Linked DNA regions of Homo sapiens: all the other regions are reported to be linked to region 1. Evidence: microRNA targets listed by miRTarBase, many of them from high-throughput screens and not tested one by one. Region 1 holds a microRNA gene; each other region holds the end of a gene's coding sequence.
The links. The annotated mature microRNA hsa-miR-148a-3p reads UCAGUGCACUACAGAACUUUGU and lies in region 1 at 2,490-2,511, opposite strand. An mRNA with a match to its seed (bases 2 to 7 or 8) in the 3' UTR can be bound and repressed. Matches are read on the target gene's strand: a 7mer-m8 pairs with bases 2 to 8, a 7mer-A1 pairs with bases 2 to 7 and ends in A, and an 8mer does both.

Region 1 (5,854 bases):
TCATAGCATTTTTTTTAAATATAGTGTAGCCTAAGTTTATAATATTTATAAAGTCTACAATAGTGTAACGTCCTAGGCCTTCACATTCACTCACCACTCACTGACTCACCCAGAGCAACTTCTAGTCCCACAAGCTCCATGCATGCTAAGTGTCCCATATGGGTGTAACATTTTTTACATTTTATATTGTATTTTTACTGTACCTTTTGTACGGTTAAATAAATCCTTACCATTGTGTTACATTTGCCTACAGCACTCAGTACAGTACCATCCTGCACAGGTTTGTAGCCCAGGAGCACTAGGCTATGGCATACAGCTTAAGTGTGTGGTAGTCTCTACCACCCAGGTTTAAGAACACTCACTCTGTGATGTTTGCAAAAACAATGAAATCGCCTAACACCACGTTTCTCAGAACCTATCCTCATCATTAAGCAATGCATGACTAAAGTTTCAGCTGCACCTGTTTGGTTCATTCACATAAAGTATCTAAAATAAAGACAGGAGTGCCAAGGCCATGCAAAGTAGGTTGCTAGTGATGGTTTCCTTTGCCCAGCGATCTGGGTTAAATGAACACCACGGCCTCCCCAGCGTTCCTTGTTCTTCCTTCCCTGACGTTTATCACCCTTCTGATTATTTTATATTTGTATTGTCTACCTCTTGCATGAGAAAGACCTCCAAGAGGGCAGGGTTCGGGGCCTATTTTGTTCACTGTTGCATTCGTAACGTCTAGAGTAACACCTGATGCTCGGGAGGTGAAAATACACTGATTGCTAAACGACTGAGGTCTATGAGACCATGCCAGGTTTACAGTAAGCACCCCAAGACTGCCGATTTTCCCAGTTCCTATTCCTGGCATCCTTAGCACCAGAGTAAACCACAGCCCTCCTGCTTGGTTAGTCCTTAACTCACTTGTGGTCACAAACAGGAGAAATGCAAATCACTTAAGCATAGAAGTCAAACCAGACTGAATCATGTCAGGGACTCCAAACCTTGCCTTTCTCTGGAGGTGAGAGATCCTGACCTAATTCCTTTGTATGGATGACTACTCTCCCAGTCAACCGCTCCACTCTTTACCTCCCATTCTCTTACAAAGTTGATTTAAGTTTTCTTAAAATTCAGTATATTCAGACTATCTTGTGGAGATGTACAGACATAAGAACTAGGAAAGAGAATCCTCTTCCTCAAGTAAGCATACCTTACATCTCAAATGAACACAAGACGTACTTGAGTTTGGATCACTTTATTTAACTGCACAGAAATAATTCAGCCATTTTTGGGTAAAGGATTGAGGAACAAAAGCAAAGCAGTCACTGATGGAAAAGTGGGAGAATGGATAATGGCCACACAAAAGAGAACACATGCTGCCTTAGGATCAATACACAGCATTTCTGTGAAAAGCAACTGGTAGGTCCTGCCATTAAGCTCTAACATCAAGCAGCTGAATACTTTCTCCCTCATTGAGCCTTCCTCCATTATCATCCCTCTCCCGATGATAAACCACTGGAATATACCTAAGTAAAAAAAATGGTGGCTTTCTTTACCAAGGGCTTCCCAGAGACACAAGCAACCCCCAGGTTTCTGAAGCATCCCATAAAATACATCAGAAGGCCCTTCCCTTACCTGTCAGCACCACGGGCACAGGAACCATTTCCTTTTTTCCCTACCACCCTGCGTCCTGTGCCTGGCCAAAAGCTCATAAAACCAAAACAGGGCAATGTCCATGGAACAGGACTACAATTTGGTGCCAGTCACTGACCCACTATAGAGAGCAGGCTATTGATAGAAACTCACCAACCCAAACCTCCATTCCACTAGGGATGAGAGAGCAGTCTCTCCACCTAAAGGATCTCCACAGCCCAAAAGCATAAATGTCCCCCTCCCCCAGTGGCTTTCAAAATGCTTTCTTGGAAAAAGTTCTTCCTTTCCATTAATAAAACTTACTTTAAAAAACAAAAGTGAACTGCATCTAAATCGGAAGCAGAATTGAGACTAGATCTCCAAACTCAATCCCTGCAGGCTGTCATTTATCCAGCAGGTCGCTTGAGTAAAAGGACCATTATCTGTGGCTTTTGTACAAATACATTTCCTTCTTTAAGGGTAGAGAGTTTAAATTCCTGCAAGGCACTGCACACTAACACACCCATTAATAAATCTGCAGCTCTCCTGGCTCAGTTTAAGTGAGGCCAGTCTTTCAGTACCTGTTAAGCAACCTTGAAAAGTCCAAAGCTTTATTTTTTTCTTCTTTAAACCAAAAAATTCTACAGTCAGGAGTCCACCAGGGTAAGATGAAGAGATTTGGGGGGATTTTGTTCCCATTTACAGGGTTTAACCCACCCGCTTCAAGGGAATTGGTCAAGTTCCTCGTGCTGCACTTGGACCCCCTCTGGCCTTGCCCCTCCCCCAAGGGAAAGGCGCAGCGACGTGGCCACCAGGGCCACTCGGCCTGGCGTCTGGAGCACTGGCGGCATCGGCGACCACAGCCTCTAGAGACAAAGTTCTGTAGTGCACTGACTTCTATCATACTCAGAGTCGGAGTGTCTCAGAACTTTGCCTCAAAAGACCAAACGTGCTGTCTTCCTCCAGAAGTTTCTTCCTGCAGGTGTGTTCCCCCACCCCCCAGCTAAGACAAAGAAGAATAACTCGTTAAAAGCAATTTAGTTCAGGATGCGACCGATAATGGAACGGGTCATTAATTATGGAAAGTTACTGCCGCAGTCAGCAGGAGCAAATGCCCAACAGAAATGGTGTTTTAACAGCCCGATTCGACAAATTCTGGTCGCAATGTCACAGCAAAGGGGCTGCAAGAATCGCACACTCTCCTTCCTTCCTACCCGTCCTCAGATTAGAACCCATTCCTGGTCGAACCCTCACCTCCCTCGGTAGTTATTTAAACTTTTGCCAGCAGCTAACTCACTCTAACTTGTGGCAACTTTTTACCTTCCCATCTGGAAAGCTGGGGGCGGGGGCGCTGCACGAGGACGAATATTCGGAGCTGAAAGAGTTAAACGGTGGGGAACAAATACAGGCCCGGGAAAAGCCCCTAAGATGGGACGACCCAAGAAAGACCCGCTTTGCGGGGCCTCCCCTGAGACCCCCTTCCCCAGCCATTCCCAGTACTCTATTCCCGGTCTTCCAGCCGCCCGCGCCCAGCCCCGGGAACTCGGGTCGAAGTCGTCCCATCCCCTCCGTTCCACCCACCCACTCTTTGGGATTCTCCCTGCCCCATTAGGCAGTGCTTCCCGCGGACCCCGTTCGCGCACAACCTTGCACACAGTCCCCAAGACTGCTCTTCTCCCCCTCCCGGCACCCCCTTTTCCCTGCAGCATAAGCGACCACTCTGTCCCCCATCCTAGCAGACCCCCTCCCCCCACATACCGCACCTGAACAGCTGTTGCGCGCGTGCAACAGGTCTGGAAAGTGCTTTCCCATCTTCCCCCAAACCCCTCGCCACCGTTCCATCCCCCGCCACCCCTAAGAGACAAGGCCGGAGGGGCAGTGGGCTGCGTCCCCCGGGCCGGGGTGCACGGGCGGCTGGCGGAGTGCGGGGCGCCCAGAGGCTCCCGGGGTTGGGGGCGGTGGTCGCGCTGGGCCGGGACACCTTCGCGAGTGGCCCCTCGTGCGCCCGCCGCAGGCTCCCCAGCCTGCCCCTCCAGCGCCGGCCGCCAGGCATTCCCGGGCCGGCTCCCCCCTCGCGCTCCGCTCCGCTCCCTTCCATCTTGACTTTTGCCGACGTGGAAATTTTGGGTTTGGAGACGACCTGCGCTCTTATTGGCTGCCGGCGGGCGGGGTCGGAGGTCACGGCTGCTCTCGCTATTCCGCGCCAAGGGGAGCCGCACAGCGGCTCGTGTCAAGTCAGCAGGTTCCCTCCGCCTCCCCCGGGGTCACGTGCGCCCCGGGCGGGCCCGGGAGACGCCTCCTTATGCAAATAGAGCGGCCGCGCGGGGCTGGGGGCGGGGGCGGGGTGGGCGGTGGCGCGTGGGGGCGGGGGCGGGGGCGCGGCCGGCGCTGGGAGGGCGGGGCGCTCCAGGTGGCCACCTGGCTCGACGTCCCGCCCCGCCCTTCTGCCCACCAGCCTCTGCCAGGCTGCCTGTTCCGCTTCCCGCGACACTCGGGCCGGGCGCTGTCCCCGGCCAGCCCCGCTGGGCCCAGGGAGCCCGCGTTTTGCAAGATGCCCCTGAATGCCCGCTTTCCCCGGAGCCCCCTCCTCCAAACCCAGCCGGAGCCCTGCCTGGGCCCGGTGTCTCCTGGCTGGGGAGGAGGCGGCGGCGAAGCTGCTGCAGGGCAGAGTGCGAAATGGAAACCTCGGGAGGACAGTTTCCTCCCCTGGCAGGGAGTTGAGAACTAAATGCGAGATTCCCGGTAAGGGAATTCTAGGACAAAGCAAAATCAAGAATTCATCAAGGTTAAAAGTCGTTTCTTTTAATAAACTGCCCACCACCCATCCCCAAATAAAAAGAGGCCAAAGAGCTAACTAAAAGTAGTAAAAATGCCAGTTCTGGATTTTTTTTTTTAACACGTCTACAAGGACTAACCGAAAGGCCGGTTTGCCTCCACCCTGACGTCTGCTGGGTACTGGGCACCCGAGACTGAACCAGGGGACACGTCCTCCTCTCCTCATCTAGATGGGGGTGTGACTCGGGGGAGCTCAGAATTCCCTGAGAAGAGGTCACGGGCACGTAGAATCAATTTTAACGTGGTTCCCCAAGCACGCCAAAGAAGATGCTGTTCTAGAAAGAAAGGGAAATTGATGAATGGCCACGTGACCAGGATGTCTTCCTTCCTTCCCTCTCCCCAAGGAAAAGAAAGTAACTGCATTGCAAAGGTAGAGCCCATGTTATAAATCGGACTCTCTGATGCCGGCCTGTAGTCACCAAGGAAAAAGAAGGGGACTGCATTTTAAAAAATATAAATATTTCTGAGAACTGGCCTAGTTATTTTTTCCCTCAGGTAACAAAGTATGTGTATCATCTTTATAATGGTTGCATCTGAAGTCTGACCTGGTGATACAGAAAAACATACATTTTTATGGGAAGATTCTTACCTGGAAAATTCTTCCCATCCACTCTTCTTAATTTACTTTCCTTCTCCCCATTTCCCCCTATGGAAAGATAAATCATTGCTCCTTCCAACTGTTTTATCCTCAAGGATCTTTCTCTCCACTCTCCTTTCTCTTCCCTCTCCACACTTGTTTGTTTATCTGACCATTCGCGGGTTTGCAGGGGCCTCTCCCCAGGCATTGTCTCCTCCAGCCCCCCACCCCCTCCTCGGTCAAGGCCCGGCGGCAGTGCTTGCTGGGGCTCGGAGTTTGTCCCCGCTCTGCTGCCTGTTCTGTTGTGTGCACTGGAATATTGATTTTTCAGTGTGTGTGCGCCGGCTCTGTAAAAATCAATATTTCAGTAGCTCGAGCACAGCGCAGGGCAGTGTAATGGAGCCAGCCTGCTGATGTAACGTGCGGGGTCCACCCTCAGCGATTGAGGTCAGTCAGAAAATGGCAGTGTTTTCCCATTTCATTGTTTGCTTCGGAGAGAAGGAAAGAGTTTGCATACCGTTGTGTACATCAGATTCCAGGATGAGGTAACCTTACTACTGTTGGGTAGCAGACGAACCAAGTTAGAAAAAAGACAACGAGGTGATGATGGAAAACCTCCGGTTATCCTTTGTAAGAACGGATCTTAATAAAATACTGGGGGAGGTGGGGAGTTATTGTCTGCCATCAATCCTACCACATTTCACAATGATAAAATGAAAACAGGCTCACTCCAGGAAAGGGCCAGAGTTTATCTTTTAATACTGGATATGTGGGTGCTTATTATTCCGCAGCCCCTAAAATATGCTTCTGATTAAAAGGACAAGA
Region 2 (5,854 bases), not on the chromosome of region 1:
CCTAACATTCTGGACTTGCAAAAATGACTGTTCCTTTAGTACTTTTAGCTAGAGCAGAGCTGTATGGGGTTCTCTAAATAAAACCACATGCTTCACATGAATGTTAGTGGTCCCATTTGGCATTTTCTCAGGGAAAAGATTCTTACTCAGGCTTCTTTGGTGAAAGTTCTGGTATCCATAGGATAACTTTAGGCCCTCATAATTCCCAGAGGGAATTCCCAGAGGACGTGGCCCACTCTTAGAACACAACTCCATGCCTAATTCTAAACCAGTGGAGCAACAGTGACCCCCAGTGGCCAATGGTGTGGTCTTCTTACCCCCCAGTTTGTACTTCTAAGGAGAGTTGAATAATTACATAGTGGAATAGTAACCATCCAATCCATCTTGGCAACTATTAAATTAAATAAATCAATACCCCTCTGACCTGCTTGGTTTTATTTTAACAACAATGCCTAAATATCAATATAGCAGTGGCAATAATGTATCTCTGTTAAATAGAGTGCTTGTTAGGATTTTGATTAATGTAGGGTCAATAACGAATCATTTTTTGTTTCAATCCTGTTATTGAAAACACCGTAGAGTGTATTAATTCCATGTTTGGGGGCTAAGTTGTTTGTAATTAAATGATTCTTGCTGAGATAACTTGGTTTAAATCCTCTACCATTTACAAGCTATTTGAACTTAGATAAGTCGTTTAAGCTTTTTGAGCCTTTGTAAAATGTAAGAAATGTTAGCTTTGTTGTGAGAATTAGAGATACTACATATAATATGCCTGGAATGCAGCAGGCACTTAATAAATAATAACCATTTTGGTAGTGGTGGGATAGGCGATTGGGCTTAATGTATAATGATGCCAGAGGTTTTATTAAATTGTTGAAACAAATTCATTAGATAAGCATTTTGTGTAATGAGGACTGAGGAGTGGAAACGCAGTTCCACCTAACATATGTGTTCTTCTTTCATTTCTTTCTCTAGTCTTTGAAGCCATCAAATCATGCTACCATCCAGAGTATAGTGAGAGCTGTGGGGGTCGTTCCTGGGATTCCTGAGCCTTGCTGTGTACCAGAAAAGATGTCCTCACTCAGTATTTTATTCTTTGATGAAAATAAGAATGTAGTGCTTAAAGTATACCCTAACATGACAGTAGAGTCTTGCGCTTGCAGATAACCTGGCAAAGAACTCATTTGAATGCTTAATTCAATCATTAGTTTATTTTTATGGACTTCTTCCTGTTTTTTTTTTTTTTTTTTTTGCACTGCCAATGCATTTTGTTTCAAAAGATTATTTCTATAGTCAGAGGGGAATGAGCAAATAGACTGAAGATTGCCACCAAGGAAAAGAACTGTATTTGTTTCTGAATGTAACTTAAAGCAAGATTTTTAGTAAATATGGACATCTATTTCTCTTTTTGTAATCAAACACAACAACTTATCAAACTGTTTTTAGAACTGTTAGAGAACACACTGGTTTATTTTTGTAATGTTCTTTGAAAACAGAATGGAGAAGCAGCAATAGCTTGTCATTTATCTCATTTAATGACTAATGGGAAATAGAGAACAATTTCGCGTTTTGAATTAGGCTTATTGCCTTAGAATCCTGAGAAAGTGCTAAATAATCAACTCTGATGTTTTTCTTAAGTTCTTGAGACTCTTGTTTATCCTTGTTTTTCCTCCACAAGTCATTGTCTAAGTGTAATGGAAAGTTTATGCTGAGCGTTAGTGTGTATGTATGTGCGTACATGCGCCAGGTGCCTGTGCCCTCTGTAGGATGGTTTGCTTAATATGGTTTTATAATTCAGTTTACACAGGATTCTTTATTTTTTTTAATTTTGTATTTTGGCAAACACCATTCAGTTATAAGAACTTTGCCAAATATGATAGAATAATTCAAGAGCATATACAGAGAGTTACCACTTGACCCAGCTATTTAATTGCAAATACAGTTGTTTTCATTTCATTTCCTACCAGAAAAAGGAATCAGAAACCTAGTTTTTGAAAACACAAGTGTAATTCCTCTTTTGTACTTCTTTTTCACAAATGCTTTTATTTATTCTAAATTGAATTTAAAAATCCTTCCTAAAGCCATTAACTCTTTAATTCTCCTGATATGCCTTTACTTCCTATGAAGTTATTGGTAGATGTTGAGGCCCAAAAACTGGTAGAATATTGAAGATCTTCTTAAATGACCAATTTAACCATAACCAAATATTGAATATCATTCTTCAGTCACATCTAAGTCAGGCACTTTTTCACATAGATCAGGGCTTTTGGCTCAGTCACGAAATCTACAAGTTAGCAAAGCTTACAAAACATTATTCGTCAGGTATGGGAATCAAATATAGACACTTGTTTGTCTTTGCTTTCCATTTCTATGTGTCACATACATATATGTGTCCTCTTATAACTTTAGTCTTCAAAATTATTTCAATATCCTTCTTCTCACTATATTTATTTGTGTGATGGAAATGCTTTCAGGCCGTAGATCATTGTTGGTGTTAATCTGTGGTTAATCCTCATTTTAGTTCCGTCTTATCTGATACTTAGAAATATCTCAGCCATTTTGGAGGCTGTGCAGTATCAGAAGACGTGGAGTTTGTTCTGTCTCTGCCTGTAGCTAATTATGGTGGTTCAGTCATTTAATAAATATGTTTTGAGCATCTATTTTGTGAAAGGCACTGTGTTACCTGTGTGTCTTTAGTGTCCTCACTGGTAAAATGAAGAGGCTGGCCATGAGCTGGAAGGGTTAAGTTTATAATTCCAGCTATTTCACACCCGTCTTCCTTGAAGGAATGATAGTGATAGATATAAAAACACTGTAAGTCCCTCTTTTAATAAACTAAATGAAAGAACATCCTATACTTCGCTGTTTGTAAATTAGTATGGCATTCGCTTTGGTTTAAGTGGTATTTTATTGCAAACCCATTAAAAGAATAACTCATGAAAAGAAGCTCTTTGACACCTTGGGGTACACAAATGTTGGTGTGGGTGTGTGTTAATTCTGTGAGTGAGACACACCAGTTCTAAAAAAAATGAGTGAAGTTCTGGTGCCTGAGTTACCATGCTTTCTTCTAGTTCTTACAGTAGCATAAAATTAAAGATTCAAAGTGAGATGGAGGATAAAATTACTTTTTAATACATGTTCTCAAACATTTGAAAATAAAAGTATATGATAGAAGGGGGCCAGAGTGTGGCCACCATCCTGATCGTACTGTTTTTCAATAAAGAAAACTTTTTCATTGGTAGATTTGGTGAAATTCTAAATTTAGGTTTTTTTCTAGAGCTGTATCAACCAAAACTTCTGGCAATTCCCAGTATCACTTCTTAGCCTTCTTATATCCAAATGCCTGTTTATTACCTTTCTTAATTTGAATCAATGCCTAGTTATTACAGATTGCACCCCACAATGGCCAAAAACCCACTACATAATAAAATTTACAGGTACTAACTAGTTAAGATTATATTTTAAGTAGCAATTGATATAAAATTACAACACAATGAAAGAACTTGGGTAATCTCTTAGCAATGGAAATAGGTTTTAACCAGCAGTTTTTCTGGGTGCTTTGTAACTATCATTTTACTAATGAATTGAGGATGTATTATGGTTTAAATTGGAAGAGTTTTATTCCCAAAGAATAAAGCAAGATTATCTTTCAGTAGTAGAGATTGAAGTAAATGTATTAATATTTTAATTAATACAGATTTACTAAGAGTAGTTAGAAAATTTAGTAAGTGCCTGTTTTACAAATTGTTAGGTACTAGTTTCTGTATAATTCCTACACAGAAGCTTTAGAAATCTCCTGATATTAAATTATTAAATTGGCATTCATGAAAAGAGAAGCTACAATTATAAACTCCATTTGCTAAATCATGCATAATACTCTCTCTCTCTCTTCCCCCACAAGTAATCTCTCTACCCCATGCAGTGTGCACACACACACACACACAGTCAGTTACTGAAAAAAATAATTCTTTTTCTTTTTTTTTTTAAATGGAGTTTCACTCTTGTCGCCCAGGCTGGAGTGCAGTGGCGTGATCTCGGCCCACTGCAACCTCCACCTCCCAGGTTCAAGCAGTTCTCCTGCCTCAGCCTCCTGAGTAGCTGGGATTACAGGTGTCCGCCACCATGCCTGGCTAATTTTTTTATTTGATAAAAAGAATTCTTTTTCTCAATAACTGTTCTCTTGAATTCAAATTAAGGGACTGCCAAAGTCAATTAGAATATTTTAAAAATACTTTGTTGTAACCTGTGTAAATAATATACAATTTACAGGATTTGGGATTGTAGAACTTAAACTGGAAGACTGGATTCCTCAGATCTCAGGACTATAACATTCCAGATAAATTTTTACATTCCCTTTGCTGTATATTAACTGATGATCATTTATATGTTAAGATTTTTTACCTTAATATTTCTGAATAAAACTCTTATTGCCCATTTAATATTTTCATAGGCAATCAAATGTGAGTAATACTGCTAAGAGTCTGATTTATTAAAAATATTTGTATAATTCATTCAGTTTAGTTTTTCAGTTTAGTCTTTCTGCTTTCACTTTTCTCTGTGCTAACAAGTAACTAATGTCTGGGCATTGACTTCTTATTGAATCAAAGTTGGGTTAGGCATAGCTATGCACACCTGATGTGTAAGATTAAAGAAGAGATTAAATAAGAAATCTTGGGTAAGTTGGACTTTTCTGTATAGCTCTTTTTTCCTCTGAGTTGTATTTTAATGTAGTTTATAAGTGATAAAATGATCCTTGTTTTCTAAAAGCCAGTCCTTCCCTTCAGCTTTCCACAGTTTCTGTAAATGTTTAATACTTGTACAGTCAATGGCAATTTTAAATATATATATATATATAATATATGTATATGGAAAAGGTTCAAAGATGCTTTTAATTTATTTAATGACTATTGCCTTCCTATAATAATAATTTTCATCCTTAATTATGATAATACTTTTAGCAAGAAAAATTCCTTTTTACTACAGTTTTTAGATGCAAAATGCAGTTTGGTTCTTTAGTCAAATCCACTTAGAGGGTATATTGCAGTGAAACTGTGAAGGATACTTCACTACCAATGTATAAGCTTTGTTGAATTTGTATCATTTTCTTTCAGTAATGAAAAGCTATTCATTATACAGTATGGAAATAAAAATTGCTTCATTGACCATTCATTTTTACTTATTGGGAAATACTATATTTCCAGACATTTTCAAGTGTGCTGCATTTAAAAGAGGTAATAAAGCTTAAGCATAGAGTTGAACATTTTCAAATGGTATTCTAAATGGAGCATCGTAACTTACTCTTAACATAACATGATTATCGTTGTAAAACAAGATTGAAATATACCCATCAGGAAAAATATATCTTTCAAGCTTGAGAAACTCAACTTAAATTGTTTCATATTTTCTTTTCTTTTTTAACCAAAAACTCCACATTTTATAGTTGGAGACTTTTGTTTCTTTCTGGATGTCTGACTCACTATTTTGACAATAACTTTATTTCATCTATCATTCTTACCATGTCCTGTTCTTTTAGAATGATAACTATCTAAATTTAATTAATCTTATCATTGAGATATATTCTAGCCATTTTTTGTTTAGGCCATAGTTTTTTCTTTAAGGAAAAAAAATGACCTGAAATTAAGAAATAAAATATGCTTTTATATTATTTTTATTATTTTAATCCATCTTTGTAACACTGTGTATGTTTGCATTTTGGAACTACAAGGAAATTTTAAAGATCATCTTGAACAAGTTCCTTAACTTCTCAGTGCCTCATTTATCTTACTTATAAAATGGGACAATAAACTTTCTGCTTCTTAGGGTTGTTACAAGGTTTAATGAGATAATACATGTG
Region 3 (5,854 bases), not on the chromosome of region 1:
GTCGGAAAACAGGATGCAAGGCTGGGTGCCAAGGCAACACAGCACTGAGGGGAGGATAATACCTTATCATTTTTCTTTCTTTTCTTCTTTCCACCGCCTTGCTTTTTTTTCCTTTTTATGGCCAAGGTAAGTATGGGATGTGGGCCAAAACAAGTTTAATCTGAATTGTTCATTTTAGCTTAATTTAAAGTATTTTCTCATGAACACATCACACAAGCCTCTGTGGAAAGAGGACCCCAGGGCAGCTTGAGGCACTCATATGTGACTAATTAATGCACAAAGCAGGCAATTAATTCCCTTCATTAGAGTTTTTCCCATCACTGGGCTTAAAGTGATCTTCCTGTGAACTCCCACATACATTAACTGTTTGTCTAACGACACCTTTCAGCTGTGTATTGACGGGTGTGGATGTGCCAGCCTCACTAGAATCTAAGTTATTTGAGGGTAAAATCTATAGTTTATTCATCCTTGTAAACTCCATAGCACTTGTATAGTGCCTTGTACACAGTATACACCGAACACTTGAGAGCTTGCGAAAGCAGTGCTGGAACAGACAGTAAGTCTGCTGCAGACAGCAAGCTTATAAGGGGTGGTCAGTGGTACCAAATGGAGCAGAGCATTTAAAAGGAAAAAAAAAAAAAAAGATCACTGTAGTTGATGACCATGTTGTGCAGCAGAGTGGTAAAGCTATAAGCCAAATTCTCAGCCTCTAATGAATGAACAATGAGCCAGTAAGTGTAGATACCCTTTCAAGAAGTTTGGAGACATAAGGAAGGAGACATAGCATGACAGCTTGACTGATGGCAGGGTAAAGGATTTTTTGCTGTTAAAAAGTGTTGAATAAGGTCTTGAATAAGACTGTAGACTTAGAAGAAGAAATCAACAGAGATGCTATAAGACGGAAAGGGAATGCTTGAATGTGTAGAACAGGTGGGCAGGTATGGGCCAAGGTCACAAATGAAGAGCCTAAGCTTTGAAAGGAGGGAGGGGATACCTATTATTTGAAAGTAGGAAGGATGATGGAGAGAACATCTGCTTGTAGTTCTGAGGGCAGGGCTTCGAGCTAACGCAGAACAGAAAAGCTATGGAAGCAAAAATGAGAGTCAATTAAAGGAAGGACTATTGAGTTGAAGAGAACAGCCATAATTTTGTAGAAGAATCTAATCAGCCTAATATTATGACTTTATATATCTACACTTAGTAAGTCAGAACCAAAGAGAAAATGAATGGTGGTGTTATCAGTTTCCTAGGGCTGCAGTAACAAAGTACCAAAAATGGTGTGGCTTAAAATAACAGTTCTGAAGGCTAGAACTCAGAAATCAAGGTGTCTGCAGGGCCAAGCTTTCTCTGACGGCTCTAGGGGAGAAGCGTCCTTACCCCTTCTAACTTCTGGTGTTTGCTGGCAAGCCTTGGTGTTCCTGGGCCTGTACGGTCACATGCTCATCTTCCCTCTGTGAGTCTGTGTGTGCAAATTTCCCCTTTTAAAAAAACACCAAATTGGATCAGGCTGACCCTGATGATCTCACTCTATATTTGATTACCTCAGTACAAACTTATTTCCAACTAAGGTCAGATTCTAAGGGACTGGGGATTAGGGATACAACTTACCTTTTTTAGGGAACACAATTCTACCCATAATAGATGGGTGCAAGGATGTAGGTCGAAGGCTGGCAAGTGAGCCTAGATAAAGGGAGTGAGAGAAAATGAAGATGCTAATGAGAACATGGGGATGGCTGACCATGGGGCCCACACTGGAAGAGAAGCAGATTCTGGAGACCAAGAGTTTGGGTGATGGGGTAAAGGCTAAGGATTAGCAGGCAGGAAATTACAGAGCAAGTTGGTTCAGCAGCAGTCATGGTACGAGACGAGCCTGGGAGAGTGGGGACTTCAGGATCTAAGATCTCGGATTCGTGATGAGGCTGGAGGTTTGGCTGTGACTATGGCAGGTCAGCTGCAGAAGGTAATTTGTTACTGGGAGATGATCCAGTTGAGGTAACCTCCAGAGGCCAGGGCACCAAGAGCAGTTTCTCCATCCACATGGAAGAAATATGGAAGATGACATCAGGGAAAGGGACAAAGGACAACTGTATTGGGAAGAGCCAATTGTGAAGGAAGGCAGGAGAGTATCCTATAGCTCAGGAGATAAGGACATGGGGAAAGGGCAGAATATTTGGAGGGGAAAGACTCCAAGAGTCCTGAGAAATGGGGCACAAGTGTGGAAGGAATCCTGAGGAGGAGGGAACATGGAAATTCCTGTGGGACCACAGTACAGTGGCAGAAGTGGTCTCTTTTGGTGAAGAAGAGAAGTAAAGTACATTGGGGCTGGAGAGGGAGGAAAAATGAAGGCAAAACGATGAGCCAAAGCCTTAACCAGATACTTCATGTTGTGACAGTCATTAATTTACTGGGCAAAAGTTGCCCTTTTGTTTGTGTTGAATGTTCCTCTTAATGTAATGAGAGAGTGGCTGAAAAACTCCTGTTGTTGGTAAACCAAAATGTTGGAACTGACTTTTGGTCACGGCCCTCTACCTAAGTAAGATTCAGCAGCTTTGCTAGTCTAAAGGGCCCTGTGTTGGATCCTGACTACTGCGGTTCTATATGGAGGCCACAGGCAGGGAGAGGAGCAGCAGGAGAGCTGCTTTGTTTCATAAAATGGGGACACTGGTACCTCCCTCATAGGGCTGCTTGGGTTTTCAGCCTACAGTTAAGTCCTTAATAAATATTAGTGGTGGCAGTTATCATTATTACAATAAATCCCATAGTTTAATGGGGGAGGGTTTAAAGTACACTCCTCAAAATCATAGTAACAATAATGAGTCCCTCTCCCTCCTCCCTTTCCCCAAAGATAAAGAGTACACTAACATGATCCCGGAACATTTATTTCCAGAGGCTTTTGATAGAAGAGCACAATCTTGAATAAAATTACACCACTGTACTTAAGGGCAACACTACATAGTAAGCAAAATCTGCTCTGAACCCTTTCACAGAAGAGACACTTCAGAAAGGAATTTTACATCTCCTGACAGTTTTACAACATTCATACCTCTGATGCACTTCAAGCCCCAACCCATCTCTCATTTTCTAACTTCTTTAACAGAAATGTGTGTTCACAAGTTGTGTGTGCATGCACATGTGCCTCTGTGTGTACACAAAAGGCTCATTTTACCTACTTGATAAATGAGCTGAGACGATGTTTTGGGAAAAAAAAAATTGGAAAAAAAATGTTACCCCAACACGATGGAGAAGCCAATCCAAAAAAGCTTCATGCTAGAGCTAGCTTTCTCCTCAGAAACTTACATCCTAAAAACATCCCTATGGGTGCCTAAAAATGGAAATCCAGTGAGTTCATGGCCTTGAGTTCACTCCTGTCCTGAATTTCTCCCAGTGCAGGTCCAGAAGGGCGAGATGTGGCAGAAAGGAGAATGTGGGAATGTGTGAGTATCCCACAGCCAGCTCACAGTGCAGCTTGCACTCAGAAAGGAGACTCAGGGACACAAGGTCTCAGGATGCACAGTTCACCTTGGCCTCATGTACCTGGGCTGGGGAGAGGGAGACCATTCAAAAGCCTGTGCTTGGCCGGGTGTGGTGGCTCACGCCTATCATCCCAGCACTTTGGGAGGCTGAGGCGGGCAGATCACTTGAGGTCAGGAGGTTGAGACCAGCCTGACCAACATGGTGAAACCCCATCTCTACTAAAAATGCAAAAATTAGAAAGGTGTGGTGGTATGCACCTGTAATCCCACCTACTAAAGGAGGCCGAGGCAGGAGAATTGCTTGAACCTGGGAGTCGGAGGTTGCAGTGAGCCAAGATTGCGCCACTGCACTCCAGCCTGGGTGACAGAATGAGACTCTGTCTCAAAAAACAAAAACAACAAAAAACAAAAGCCTGTGCTTCAACCTGACTCTTCAGCCTTGGTTTCTCCCAGTACTGTCACTGGGTCTTAGGAACTTTAATGCTCATAACTAATCCCTGTGCCCCAGGAACTCCATTATGAGCCTCAAGAGTCCTCCTTAAGGTATTCAGCTGGTGACTTCAGTCTGACCACTAGCCACCTGCATAGTTCCATAGCCCTTCTTGGCATCTCGATGGGCAGTCATGGTGCCTTGCCATGTAGGGCACATAGCCTGCTTTAAGAAAAGAAGATGGGTAGAGGAAGCTGAGGCTGTTGTCCAGGCCACTGCTGAGTCCTGGCACGGGGTTGAGTGAAGTTCTTGTGAGACAGGTGGGGCCCTGGGGGACCCTATTAGGCAGATGCCTTTGCTGCTTTCTGAGCCTGGTACTCCTGCTTCGCTTGCTCCCTCTGTTGCTGTTCTCTCTGGATCAACTGTACAAGGTCTAGATGCCACTGCTGCAGATTCTGCTCATAGGTGGCGATGTCCTCTGCTTCACAGGTGGAGAGTTTTTCCTTGACAAGCTGGGTGGTCAGACTTAAAAGACCTTCTGACTCAATTTTGCCCAGAGCTTGAAGCTTAGAATGTAAGGCCTGTTGGAAACAAATGGGAAAAATGAGAAGAAAGGTAGAGAAGTGAGAGAAAGATACAAAGAGGAAAAACTAGCCCTGAGTGACTGACTTTAGATTTGAACAAAAGTTTGCTGACTCGTAGTTTAGTCCTCATTCTAGTGGCCCAGAATGAAGTCACCTGCAAAATAACCACACATTTTGCTGGTAGAAAAAAACCATTTTGTTGGGAAATGGTCATGCTGCCTTTCATTCAGGTGCTGTTAGCTGTGGTTATTTTTTTCAGCTCAGCAATTTTGCTAAGATGCACCACATGTGATTTCTCCCCTTTCACTCAAAAACAGTAAATGGAACTCCATATGCTGTGTCTCCCTGTGTAATTTCTTGTTTTAAACCACAAAGACAGCCAGCCTCTAACAAATCTATGTTTCCACCCTGACCTAACCAAACCAAGCAGCAAACACCAAAAATAAGAATTCTAATATGCAAACAAAATGGCAGAGGCATCTGATAACTGGAGCAAGCCCAACCATACATGTGCCTTCGGAATAACTGAAACAAGTATTTGCCTTTCTGGCATTCCTCTCAACAGACGGAAATCAGTTCAAGGAATAGCTCCCCTGAGTGCCTGCACCGTTAGAAGCGTCTGCCTGCTGTGCTCCACTGCATTGGGTCTTAGGAACTCTAAGACTGCAGGTCAGTCTTTATGTATTGCCTGCTTACAGCTCCATCTGAAATGGCACCTTGGTTTGGTTGGTGTTGTGCTCCTGGAGAAGTAAGTATTAAAAACATTAATCTATTTAAGTACTTTAAGATGTACTCTCTCATTAGAGAGAGGGCCACTTACGGGGCCAGCTGTAGCTTATACCACACATCCCCATGTTCCACAAACAAATGCCACTCATTGGCACAGGAAAGGAGGCTTGCTTAACAGGGTTGGGGGTGGGCAGGGTGCCTAGGCTCCAGGAGGGGCCAGAGGCCTAGTGTGAGAGTCAATCATATAAAAATGGCTCCCAAACAAATGACCTCTGACTAATAAAAATCAGGCAACAGGAAGAAAAGGAAATGTAAAACGAAAATGATCTCTCTCTGACAACGCTCTCCATGTGGGGTTTGAGGCCAACAAGACAGCTTGGGACACCAGAATGAGGACTAAACTACGAGTTGGCAAACTTTTGTTCAAACCTAAAGTCAGTCACTCTGGGCTAGTTTTTCTCAGCTTTGCTGTCATCTAACATGAGAAAGGTAGTCTCTAGCATCCAGAGCTCTTGCGAGGAGAAATGCACTGGTGCCCAACATGTAGTTAGTAGTCAATAAATACTTGCCTTTTTAAAATTTTCATAAAAATACATTTGTAGAGGAATGAGGGCTGAGAACTTAATGCAGGCACAGGT
Region 4 (5,854 bases), not on the chromosome of region 1:
TTGACTGTGCTGTGGACAGAGACCCCATCTGTAATTAGACCAGGCTGGAGAGAAGATAGAAGGTCTCTCCCTGTGTTCCTCCTGGAAATTGGTGGTTATGATCACGTTTATGTGGCTTAAGCGTCAAGCGGATCAAAGGGCGTGAGCCTGGATAGCGTCCGTGGGGCCTCTCCATGACCCTGCATGGGCGGCCTCTGTCTGTCCGCCGCCGCCCCTCTGCGTCCAGGGCGCTGGTGACCTCCCCCAGGGGGCCACAGTCACGACCGCACGGCTGCAGCTGGCCTGAGACCCGCTCCGACTTTCAAGTCCACACACGGGCCGGGTTTTTCCAACACAGAAACGCAAGTGCTCCCCTCCGCCCAGCGTTTCCCCAGGTGGCCTCCTGGAACGCCAGTTCTGCTGCAGTTTAGGGGCCTGCCTAGGAGGGGACCGTGGGGTAGAGGAGGGAGATAAGCTCTGTCCCGCAAGGGCCTGAGCACCTCACAGCATGATTCTGCAGTGTCCCCAAACCTACTTGGTTGGGGAGCCTCCTGTGGGGCTGTGGCCGGGCCCAGGCCGCCAGGGACGCTTTGAGACATGGACCGGCCACAGCAGCTTCAGAGAGCAGACAGGGAGGGTCGTGGAGCAGAGCTGCGTTGTGAGGACGGAAGGCGGGGGCTGGACGGCCACACGGTGGAAGTGCTTGTCCTTTAGCCCTTGGCCAGACAGGGGCAGGGTGGGCCGTAGGAGGGGACCCAGTAGTGGCCACTGAGGGCCTGTGCCTCCAGCTGAGTCCTCGGCATACCCTGTCCTTGTCAGGCCTGGGAGCTTCAGCAGCAACGGCTGCACAGGCCGGTGTGGGGGACTCTGGGCCTTTCCTTCCTGAGCTTCCGGCCCCTTGGACCCAGTTGTATCAGGACCCTCGGAGAGGAGGCCATGTGTGCCCAGCCTGACGGGTCTGTGTTTGGCAGTGTCTGACGTGGGGTTTAGGGGCGATGATGTAGATGTCAAGAGAAGCGTGTCAGCCTTGAAGGCGTCAGGCACATGGGCCACCCAGACGGCTTCCACTGTTCTGCCTGCTTTGCAGATGTAGATGTAGTTAGGAAAGCGCTTGCGGTTTGTGTTGTGTGACTGTAGCCCTTAGAAGCTTGGCAGCCTTAGTGGGCTGAGTTCTAGGTCCCTGGAGGCCAAAGCATCCCGCTGCTGAACGCCCGCCCTGGCTGCAGTCAGCGCCTTTCGCTCGGAGCCGCCACTTCTGCATCCTTCAGGGTCAGAGAATCCGCCTGATCCTGACTCACACAGCCCTTTCCAACACGTGTGAATGCAGCTCATCAGGGCTCAGCTCAGCCTCGTGTCCGGAGCGTGGGGTGCACCCGCCGCCCGCTGACCGTGCCCACCTCCCCTGCAGGGACCAGTCCAACGTCAGGCGGATGCACACGGCTGTGAAGCTCAATGGCGTCGTCCTCAACAAGTCCCAGGATGCGCAGCTGGTCCTGCTCAACATGCCAGGTCCTCCCAAAAACCGGCAGGGAGACGAGAACTGTATCCTTTCTTGCAGTGTGCCTGCTGAGCGTGCGGGCACCCCCTGGTGGCTTCTCGCTAAGACCTGGGTTTGTGGGTGCTGGGAGTGAGGCTGGCTTCCCGCCTCTCCTTCAGCCCCAGGCTCTGGGAGCTACGACCGGGATGCAGTGGGGCTCTGAGCCCAGTGGTGACCGGGCCAGAGTTGGGGCCAGCCCTGGCATTGGTGTGGGGGAGGGAGGGCCCGCCTACAGTACCAGCCCCACTGTCCCCAGGTGCTCAGGGCTGCCCTGGGGCTGGGAGGCTCCCTGTCATGCATCCCCACAGCAGCTGTGCATTCTGGGACCTCCGCTGGGGCTCAGCCCCACCCTGCGCCGACAACGGTGGGAGGTGAGGAGCCCAGCTCTCGGCTTTAAGGCCACAATTGGTCGCAGCTTTGGGAATTTGTGCTTTGGAAGGAGAACTCCGCAGTGCATCTGGGCGTATTGGCACAGACAGGGTGACGCCTGGCACATCCCTGCCAGGTTGGCACCAAGAACTGGGGCCAGTGAGGGCATGTCCTCCATGCGTCCTGATCGGAATCCGTGGCCCAGGTCCCCTGTAGGCTGGTGAGGACCCAGTCCCGTGGCTGGGGTTCCCTGTCGGGTGGGGTCAGCACCGTGGGCTGTGTCGCTGTCTCTGCTCGTCCTCCCTGTGGCCACGGTGCTCCCTCTCTTTCCCGAGCACTGGCCCCTCTCTCCCCTGCCCTGCTCCTCCCCGCCTGGGGGGTCTCTCTAATCCCCACCTCTCTTTTCACCTTGGCTCTGGGTTTCTCAAACCAAATCTTAGCTAACCAGGAGAGGATAAACCTCACTCCTATCACGATTTCAGCTACACACGCTCAGGTAAGATCAGCTGTGGCCTTAACTCTGTTGACCACAGACATGGAGTTTCTTGAAGTCCTGACCGAGGGGCTGAACAGAGTCCTCCTGGTCAGGGGTGGCGGCCGGGAGGTGATCACCATCTACTCCTAATGCCCAACAGCATCACGGCACTCTGGGACAGGCACGGAGGACGGCGTGGGCAGCCTGGGCCTGGGCTTGGCCCAGGGAAACAGACGGCAGACACACCTGTCCCCCAGTGATGCCGCCCAAGCTGCCCATGGGGCTTCCTACGGAAGTTTCTAGGCCCGTCACCTAGGGCTCTCCTGTTCAGCCTTAACAGGCTCAGCAAATCAGGGCGTGGCTGGACGATTTCCTTGCATCTGAGGGCAGACGCTGCTACCGGAGTGACCTGGACGTGGCCAGATCTTCTCGCAGGTCACAAGAAGCCAGTGAGCCCTTGCCTTGGTTTCTGGAAGTTCTTTTCCTTGGCTGGATTTACCCAGTGGTTAGGTTGCATTTCTACCCCATCCAGAACATTCTTGGAAGAGCACCCGGAGCTGAAGCTGTCCCTGATGATGAAGGTGAAACGTCAGCCCTGGCCATGGCTCCGCTCAGGGCCCCGGTCACCTCCGAGTCACTCTGTTCCTTGACTGTCTTTGTGTTTCTGTACCTCAAGGCACTGAAGCTGGAGGACTCTGTCCATGCCCGTGTCACCCTCGTGTGGGAGCCTCTGGGCTCGGCAGGTCCACATTTCATGAGCTGAGGCGTGGGCCAGGGCCATCTGGAAAGGGAACTCGGCTTTTCCAGAACGTGGTGGATCATCTGTCGGGTGTGTGGTGAACACGTTCAGTTCATCAGGGCCTACGCTCCGGGAAGGGGCCCCCAGCTGTGGCTCTGCCATGCCGGGCTGTGTTTGCAGCTGTCCGAGTCTCCATCCACCTTTAGAAAACCAGCCACTTCTTTTCATAAGCACTGACAGGGCCCAGCCCACAGCCACAGGTGCGATCAGTGCCTCACGCAGGCAAATGCACTGAAACCCAGGGGCACACGCGCGCAGAGTGAACAGTGAGTTCCCCCGACAGCCCACGACAGCCAGGACTGCCCTCCCCACCCCACCCCACCCCAGGAGCACGGCACACAGTTCAGCCTCTGAGCTGGCTCACACGTGCCATCCCCACCCCGGTGCTCCAGGGAAGGAGGACACGGACCCGACGTGGGAGGTCCTCAGGCAGCAGTGGCGCCTGGTGTCAGGTCTGTCTGGCTGAGTCCCGGGCGTCCCCTGCCATGGCCTGTGCCTTGCATGGAGGCGGCGGTGGCACTGAAGAGATAGCTTTCAAGGGCCCAACACTTTGCACTTCGGCTGGCTGTGAGTTTCTGCTTTGTAGGTTGTGGTCACATTTGCAGGCTGCGGGCAGTGGCACCGACTTGGGCCTCCCTTTCTATGTGGCATATTTATTTATTTAAACACCCCAGGGAGTTACGTGGTAACAAGGTTGTCCATAAAGAGGTTGCTTCTATATACTAGAGGCCCCAGATGGCCAGGCCTTGGGCTACGTCTGGCTTGCATGGTCTCCCAAGGGAATCAGCCCCATCAACAAAGTTCAAATCGGGGCAGAGGCTGCACTTGTGCCCCCAGATGTTTCTGAGGAGCCAGACTAGGGCTGGCATTGCTGTAGAGTGACGGCTGCTGCCCAGAGCGTGTCCCAGACATCACAGCGGGGCTCAGCAGTTCCCACAGCCTCTGCCTGCCTTGGCTAAGCATGAGTTAAGCAGCAAAACGCTCCTCCATGTCTGGATGGGGCCGGCAGGTCCTGTGTCCCCTGCACCTGGAGGAGAGCAGGCTAGAGGCACAGCGGCCACATGGTGCTGGCTCTGAACGTTGGTTGGTGGCTGGAAAACAGCCCTGCTTCTGAGGGCCGCTCAGTTCTGCACACGAAACCACCTCCTGAGGGCTCAGCTCTGCCCCCGCCCTGGGCTGCAGCCTCTGCACGCAAGCACCAGGCATCCTTTGTGTTGTCAACTCCGTGTAACCAGTAACTACAGCCATTTACAATTGACTCCGTTTCCTTTTGTAGGTTTCCCTGTCTGTCTGTGTTAGTAGAAAAATAAAATCCTATGAAATCTGAGTACGTTGAAGAATCTCTTGAGTCTCATTCAGCATGAAAGACAGCTGGAGAAAATGTACTGGCCGCCCCTTTTCTAGCAGGAGCGTCAGGGCTGACCAGCCACAGCCAACTCAGGTGGCTGAAGAGTGACCATATGAATTGGACGAGGGCTTCCAAATCATGTCATCGGCTTGGAAATGACCTTACCCCAAACTTCCTAGTGCTGTGTGTTGAAGTGACCCAATCTCTGTATTTCTGAGACAGTCTCTGTTGCCTAGGCTGGAATGCAGTGGCGTCACCTCAGCTCACTGCAACCTCCGCCTCCCAGGTTCAAGCTATTTTCCTGCCTCAGCCTCCCGAATAGCTGGGATCACAGGCGTGTACCACCACGCCCAGCTAATTTTTGTATTTTAGTAGAGATGGGGTTTCACCATGTTGGCCAGGCTGGTCTCGAACTGACCTCAAGTGATCTGCCTGCCTCAGCCTCCTAAAGTGCTGGGATTACAGGTATGAGCCACCATGCCCGGCCATTCGATTTATAATTTAATTTATATAAGGATGGAGGCACCAGAGAGTCCGCCATGAGTGGGGACAGCGTGTTCTAACTCGTGAGATGCCAACTCACACCTGTGATGGTCACAGCCAAAACCAGAGAATCGCGGGGAGGACGTGCGGAATCGGACCCCTCTTGCAGGGTTGTAGCTGCACGGGAAGGGCCTGTGGTTCCTGAAAGTGTGAGAGACAGAGCCGCCCCTTCCCCGGCAGGTCCACTCCTGGTGTGTGGCACAGCCTCAGGAACGGGTGCACGCAAGTTCACAGCAGCCAAAATGGATGCAGCCCGAGAACATGCTGAGTCCATGTGGGCCGTGCCTGCTGCAGGCCTCTCAGCTAGAACCAGGAGCCAAGCTTGGAAGCCTCACGCTCGGGAGGAAGCTAGACACAAAGGGTCTCACGCTGTGGGACTGCACTTAACACGAAATGCCAGAGTGGGCCAGGCACAGAGGCAGGGGGTGCACTGGCGGGTGCTGGGGGTGGGTCAAGGGGAATGGGGGGAGATGGGGGATGGGGGGAGGCTGCTTACAGGGTATGGATTTCTTTTTGGGTGAAAATGTTCCGAAATGGCTGTGGTGAAGCTTATGTGACTGAACATGCTGGAACACTGCCTCGTGCACGACGAAGGGCGAATTGTGTGTGTGAAGCTGCCGGGCACCGTGTCCAGTGGGCCTGACACATGGTGGACAGGAAGGGACACGGCACAGGAGGGTGGCGGGTCCTGCTCTGGCTCTCGGGTCACAGGAGAGTGACCGTGAGAGCAGCGTCGTCCTCGGACCCCCGAGGGGTGAGTGCTGGCTGCACCCAGGCATCCACACCCGGGACTCAGAGCACGGG
Region 5 (5,854 bases), not on the chromosome of region 1:
ACGCGCCCCAACCCCATGCTTAAAATACTTTAATGATTACTGAAGTTTGTTCAATTCCCTCGTTTATTAGTCATTAATATTAACAAGATCAATTTGAAAACAGCAATTGTAGAATTGCCGTTAAAGTAACCCAAGCCCCACTGACCTCAGTAATATAACAATATGCTACTCCATTGTTGTTTAGAATATTTCACCTTCCTGATACAAAATAGTGAAACGATAAAAGCTACCATTGCCAAATTAAGGTTACTTATTTTTATTTATTTTTTCAGATGGCATCTTGCTGTGTTTCCCAGGTTGGAGTGCAGTGTACAATCTCAGCTCAGTGCAACCTCCGCCTCCTGAGTTCAAGCAATTCTCCTGCCTCAGCCTCCCAAGTAGCTGGGATTACAAGTGTGTGTCACTACACCTGGCCAATTTTTGTATTTTTATTAGAGACCGGTTTCACCATGTTGGCCAGACTGGTCTTGAACTCCTGACCTCAAGTGATCTGCCCGCCTCAGCCTCCCAAAGTGGTGGGATTACAGGTGTGAGCCACTGTGCCCAGCCATCCTAAGTTTAGAATATTGTGCTAATGCTTCACATGTACTTACTTTTCACAACCATGAGGTAGGTACTATCCCTGTTTTTCCTGTTTTGAGGAAACGGGCTTAATGGTTCAAGAATTTACTCAAAGTCAATAAGCATGTATCAGAAAAAGGATTCAAATTTTCTGTGTGATTTGTCTTTCTATATCCATAGCCTGCATCCTGAAACCACTCTTACTCATGTTTAAGTGGGGAGAGTAATGGAAACTCCCAGGAGAGATCCTTCAATCTAGTTTTGTGGCTAAAAGCAGTAAGGAGAAGTTGAGGAATCTACTTGTAAATGCAGGATGCCTAAGGGCTGACAATTAAGAAGAAAACTGAAAAACTAAAAAGCAGTGTAAAACCTCAGAAGCAAAGATGTCTTGGATCATACTCATAGGAGCAAAAAATAACCTAAATCAAAACAGTTAAGTATGCCAAGGGCCTAACTGAAAATCCAGTCCCTAATTGGCCTGAGTTGTTGAGTTCACATTATATTCAGATGAGTATTATTAAAAACATGGAGAAATAATAAAATATTTAACAAAAACTGGTTAAATGTGTTAAGTGATAGTGTATTTCCCATTAGAGTCGGCTATATATAAAGTTTGTGACACTTCTGTCCTCCAATAGACTTATGTTAAAGACAACATGTGTATTGAAAGTAGCAATTTTATTTGAGTTAAAATTATTTACAAAAACCCAAAGACATACTTCATGAAACTGGTACAAACTATTTTTTCCTGCCGTTGGCTTTTGCTCCAAAGATCACAGCTGAGAAATACTGTATAAAATAAAAATAGGATTGGATTCAGAAAAGTACTCTACTGTTCTAATTTCCAATTGGTAGTATTTACAGAAATATTTACAATGGAAAAAAGGTTACTTTAAAACTTTTAGTTAAGTCAGCCTCAAGTACCCTAAAATGCAGAGTTCTCTGAGGGTTAAAAACACACAAATGCACTGCAGTTGGTGAAGTGATTATCTCCCCCACCACCTCCCCCCACCAAAATCTGCATCTCTATCAGTGCTCGACAATTAGTTATTATTTAAAAAACAAAACAAAACAAAAAACTGTTAAACACTGAGGTAAATCAATTTTCAAATGATTACCAGTGTAACAGAAAAATGCAGTTCGCCCTGATTGTTCTCATCCAAATGTTTTATAATATTCCTTACCATCTGCCACAAGTCAGGTTCACCAAAAATCTGTCCCTTTCCCTAAATCCAATGATTAATAAATATCAATGTATTTTGCATTTTAAAATAAAATATAACTAATTTAATTTTACGGGTATCATTTACCAATATGTTTTTAAAAGTATTTTGCTAAGCTAGCTTTAATACTCAGGGCAAATACAATCTCAATGGTTCCCACGTTACACTGGCGTACTATGTTCTTAAAAGGTGATGGGTAGGGGTTGGGGTGGGTAGAAGGAAGAAAACAATTTGCCTGGAATCAGTTACTTCCTTACAGATTTCCCAACAATCTGCATTATCAAAAATAGGAAGACAATAGAAGGCAGCCACTGCATTTAAAAACATTACAGCTGGCACTGATACAAGAGCCCCGATTTGTCACTTTATACAAGGAAATAACAAAGTCTAAATGGGTAAAAATTAGACTTTTAGCTATTTTCCCCAATACACACCAAACTAATATTTTTATGGCTTCAAGTTTTACAAATCCAATGAAGAAACATGATGTAACTACCTGAAAGGTATTTAAAAGTATTAATGAAAAAGATCTCTAGAAAGCCTGTATTCAGGCCCAATCAATAAAAAAGGAAAAAAAAAAGTATAACCAGTGGTGTGAATAATACAAGAAAAATTTGCAATGTTATGATATTAAATCTATAAAATGTTTTGTGTTCCATAACTGTTTTTCAAATAACTGCTCTACGAACAAAGAATCTGAATGAAAAAAGGGTCTTCTCTAAACCAGCAATTTAAGGCTTTGCGCTTATGCAATTGATCCTGTCACTCTATAGAAGAATATACATGTTATCTGGAAACAGGAATTCCACATTGGTGTTTTAGCTTCCTTATATTTATTGTACTGAACATTAGAAAATATATCTAGAGAGTCTTTCCTCAAAATCTAATAATGTTTTAAGAGCCTCCCTAGCATTAAGTGTAAACTACCCTGGGTTTGACTATTTTGCCTCCTCCTTTTAACAGGGCACATCATCTTATATAATATTCTCTCAAACTGTTGTTTTTCTTGTGCCTATAGCTATGACACATTATGGTATGATATTGAATATGGTTGTGGTCTCAAAAGTAAAAAATAGTTCAATAACCCAAACCTAATCAAGAATAAAAAAATATACTATTAATCCCGTGTATCTTTGGATTCCATCTAATTTTAAATATAGACAGTAGTTCAGGGAACAACAACCAAAAAATTCACAAAATTATTAAAAGCTTTATTTACGATTGGAATCATTCAACAAAAAAGCAAAAGCAAATGAGCCTGAAAAAGGAACTAAGCTGTTGTCTAGAATGTCCTCAGAACATTCGCTACCTCAGTAGCTAAGCTGCCTTTGCACCTGGCTGGCATGACAACAGTGGCTCAACATACACAGCAGTTGCACTAACAGCAGCACAAATTTTCCCCTTCAAACTTGCCCAGAATAAAGCAAGAAAACAAGGGGAGGGTATAAACTCTGCCAAAGTAAATGTATTTAAATACTGCATGGAATTGTTAACAGCCTGAACCTTTTCCCCTCATTTTTGATAGTTGCAGATTGATGTAGTAACTGTCATTTAGCAAATGCCGAATGCATGACGAAGAAATCAGGTGGCCTTAAAAATCCAAACACGAATGATACTGATGAATGTTCTTGGTATATCTTCAAGGACTTCTTTCATGACTTGACTTTTCTTTGTCTAAGGATAGCTCCAGCATTACCGAGCACCTGAAGCAAAGGTAAAGCAGCTAGCAATGTTCCAAATATTCAATCACTCTAGAGATAGATTTCTGGCCAGTTGTTCCAACAGCACACTGAAAGCAGGGTGAAGGGGAAAGGAAGTAACAGTTAATATTTAACAGATTTTAAGAAGTATAAATAAAAGTTTACCTCTAGATTTACTAAACTGAACACTACAAATCAAAGTACACCGAGATTAAATTGTGGGTTTGATAAAGTTATTTGCCATAACATGCAATGATTACCTTGAAGAAATAGAACACGATTATTAAAATTAAAAGAAAATCCCTTTTTGCTCCCACTTACTATGGCCATAGTATTTTTATGTCTACTGTCAATGTATTATAAATTTAAAATCATATAAGCTGTAATAAAAGCTACTTACAGTGAGATTCATAAAACTCAAAAATTTTTTGAGCATCTCTGTCATTATTGAAAAGTCTCCTTCTGGCAGATATTCCCGCACAGTGGTTACATTGATCTGAGGAAACAGAGCAAGAAATATTGGTCAGCTGGCAGAAAACATGAGATTGCACCTCGTACAATGTTGTTGGTTTTGACACACATCTTGGTGCAAATTTTTAAGATCCTTGGAACACGTGGTTATTTATTCTCTTTCCACACTCACTCTGCATGTGATTTCCTACCTCACCCTCAGAAAGAAAGGAGAAAGGTAAAGTTGGCAAAAGCTACAAAGAAATATTTGTGTACACATTTACTTTTTTTTTTTTTTTTTTAAATGAAACAGTCACTCTGTTACCCAGGCTGGAGTGCAGTGGTGTAATCTCAGCTCACTGCAACCTCTACCTCCTGGGTTCAAGTGATTCCCATGCCTCAGCCTCCCGGGTAGCCGGGATTAAAGGCACGTGCCACCATGCCTGGCTAATTTTTGTATTTTTAGCAGAGACGTGGTTTCATCATGTTGGCCAGGCTGGTCTCGAGCTCCTGGGCTCAAGTAATCCACGCACCTTGGCCTCCCAAAGTGCTGGAATTACAGGTGTGAGGCAGCATGCCGACCTACTTTCATAAATGCAAAGAAAAAGGCCTGAAATAACAAACTGCACTGTTTAATGTATGTGTGTGTTTCACTGGGGGCCCTGGGGGAATAGGAGAAGAGGGTGAGGACTTTAGACCTGAGAATGTACTCACAAAGCTGCTCATGAAATAAAAAGATCAAAGAAAAATTCACATCCTTCACAGATGAATTCAACTAATTATATAGGACAGGAATTAACTAGAAGCATCTTTCCAAAGGCAATCTAACCTCATCTATGATAGATTCTCAGACAATATCAGGAGAGAAAACCCTTCATTATTAGCAAGAAGCAGCCAAACTATATATAAACCAATCTGTTACATGGAAAACATTACACAACCTGCTTAAAAAACTATTTCATTAAAGAATGCTTTAAATGTTTTACGGAGAATAAAAAGAAAAAATCTTTTAGGAAGGTTCACCTGTAGTAAGGGGCAAAAGAAAGTATACTGTCCCAAGTTTGGGGACACAAGGTAAAGGGTTAAACAAAACCAACCAAAAAACAAAAAGAAAACACACAAAAGCTCCCAATTCGACTTTTGTTAGCGGGGGCAAAAAAGGAGAGATGACATATTTCTCTTCAGAAATTTGCCACTACCCACCCCCTTTTTCCTATTCCCATGCCAGGGTACTCGCAAAATTAGAAAGCAGCAAAAAAATGAGATGAATACAGCTTCAGAAAAGATCTAATCAAAACACTGCTAAAGTACTCATGTGCTGAAGATATCAGTTACACACATTCAAACTGATCCTCCCACCAAAAGCTATCACAGTGGTGGGCAAAATAGTGGCTAAGGTGTCTCTGGAGAACTGCTCAGTAGAAAAGTACGCCTCTGTAATAGAGAATATATGATTAGCTCCTATATTTTGGATGAAAGCCCCTCATTAATCCAAATCAAACCCTTCTCTATCAACACACTACAGAACATGACATACAGCGTTTCTGAGGCAATGGGAGGGACAGTGACAGCATTTTTTAACAGAATATAGCAGGTACAAAAAGAAAAGGCATGATACAGCATGGCCTATTTGAAAAATTTTAAAAGTGTCCAGTAGGTTTGGAAATTGGAGAAGCAGTCTTAAGTCCAGGGTCTTGCAACACTAAACAGTCATGAGTCCCCTTCCTGGCTGTGAGCCAAGGAAGACTGGGCAAGGAGCTACGTGATCAGTAAGTGCTCTGAAGTAAGTTAGCTCCAGTGGCAATGTGCAATGTCCCAGGAATGGAGGGGCAACAAAGCAGGAAGAGCAGTGAGGAGACTGACCACTGCAATGCACCAGCTGCAAAGTGAGAAGACATGGAGGGCAAGTGAAAATGGGAT

Region 2: the mRNA of BMP3 is a reported target of hsa-miR-148a-3p. Seed matches in the 3' UTR shown: 7mer-m8 at 1,252-1,258.
Region 3: miRTarBase lists MRPS27 as a target of hsa-miR-148a-3p. Seed matches in the 3' UTR shown: 7mer-m8 at 3,458-3,464 and 7mer-m8 at 3,383-3,389.
Region 4: the mRNA of SLC12A7 is a reported target of hsa-miR-148a-3p. Seed matches in the 3' UTR shown: 7mer-A1 at 3,037-3,043, 7mer-A1 at 3,330-3,336, 8mer at 3,387-3,394 and 7mer-A1 at 3,676-3,682.
Region 5: the mRNA of WAPL is a reported target of hsa-miR-148a-3p. Seed matches in the 3' UTR shown: 7mer-A1 at 1,591-1,597.

The regions. Positions count from the first base shown.
Region 1 is chr7:25,947,433-25,953,286 of GRCh38, forward strand. MIR148A (microRNA 148a) reads right to left here and starts at 2,554; the gene lies at 2,487-2,554. All of the region lies in intron 6 of LOC105375199 (a long non-coding RNA gene), which reads right to left. RefSeq lists an enhancer at 595-664 and silencers at 3,508-3,647, 3,778-3,997, 4,118-4,327.
Region 2 is chr4:81,052,370-81,058,223 of GRCh38, forward strand. It overlaps BMP3 (bone morphogenetic protein 3), which reads left to right. Exons shown (of 3, transcript NM_001201.5): 3 at 976-5,258. The coding sequence ends at 1,167. Among named protein-coding and RNA genes, the nearest start is that of BMP3, 25 kb to the left of the region's middle.
Region 3 is chr5:72,216,665-72,222,518 of GRCh38, forward strand. MRPS27 (mitochondrial ribosomal protein S27) reads right to left here. Exons shown (of 11, transcript NM_015084.3): 11 at 2,739-4,484. The coding sequence ends at 4,245. Among named protein-coding and RNA genes, the nearest start is that of MIR4803, 50 kb to the left of the region's middle.
Region 4 is chr5:1,049,016-1,054,869 of GRCh38, reverse strand. SLC12A7 (solute carrier family 12 member 7) reads left to right here. Exons shown (of 24, transcript NM_006598.3): 23 at 1,388-1,521; 24 at 2,419-4,486. The coding sequence ends at 2,510. Among named protein-coding and RNA genes, the nearest start is that of MIR4635, 11 kb to the left of the region's middle.
Region 5 is chr10:86,434,036-86,439,889 of GRCh38, forward strand. WAPL (WAPL cohesin release factor) reads right to left here. Exons shown (of 19, transcript NM_015045.5): 18 at 3,885-3,980; 19 at 1,221-3,573. The coding sequence ends at 3,508. Among named protein-coding and RNA genes, the nearest start is that of GRID1, 70 kb to the left of the region's middle. RefSeq lists a silencer at 3,977-4,271.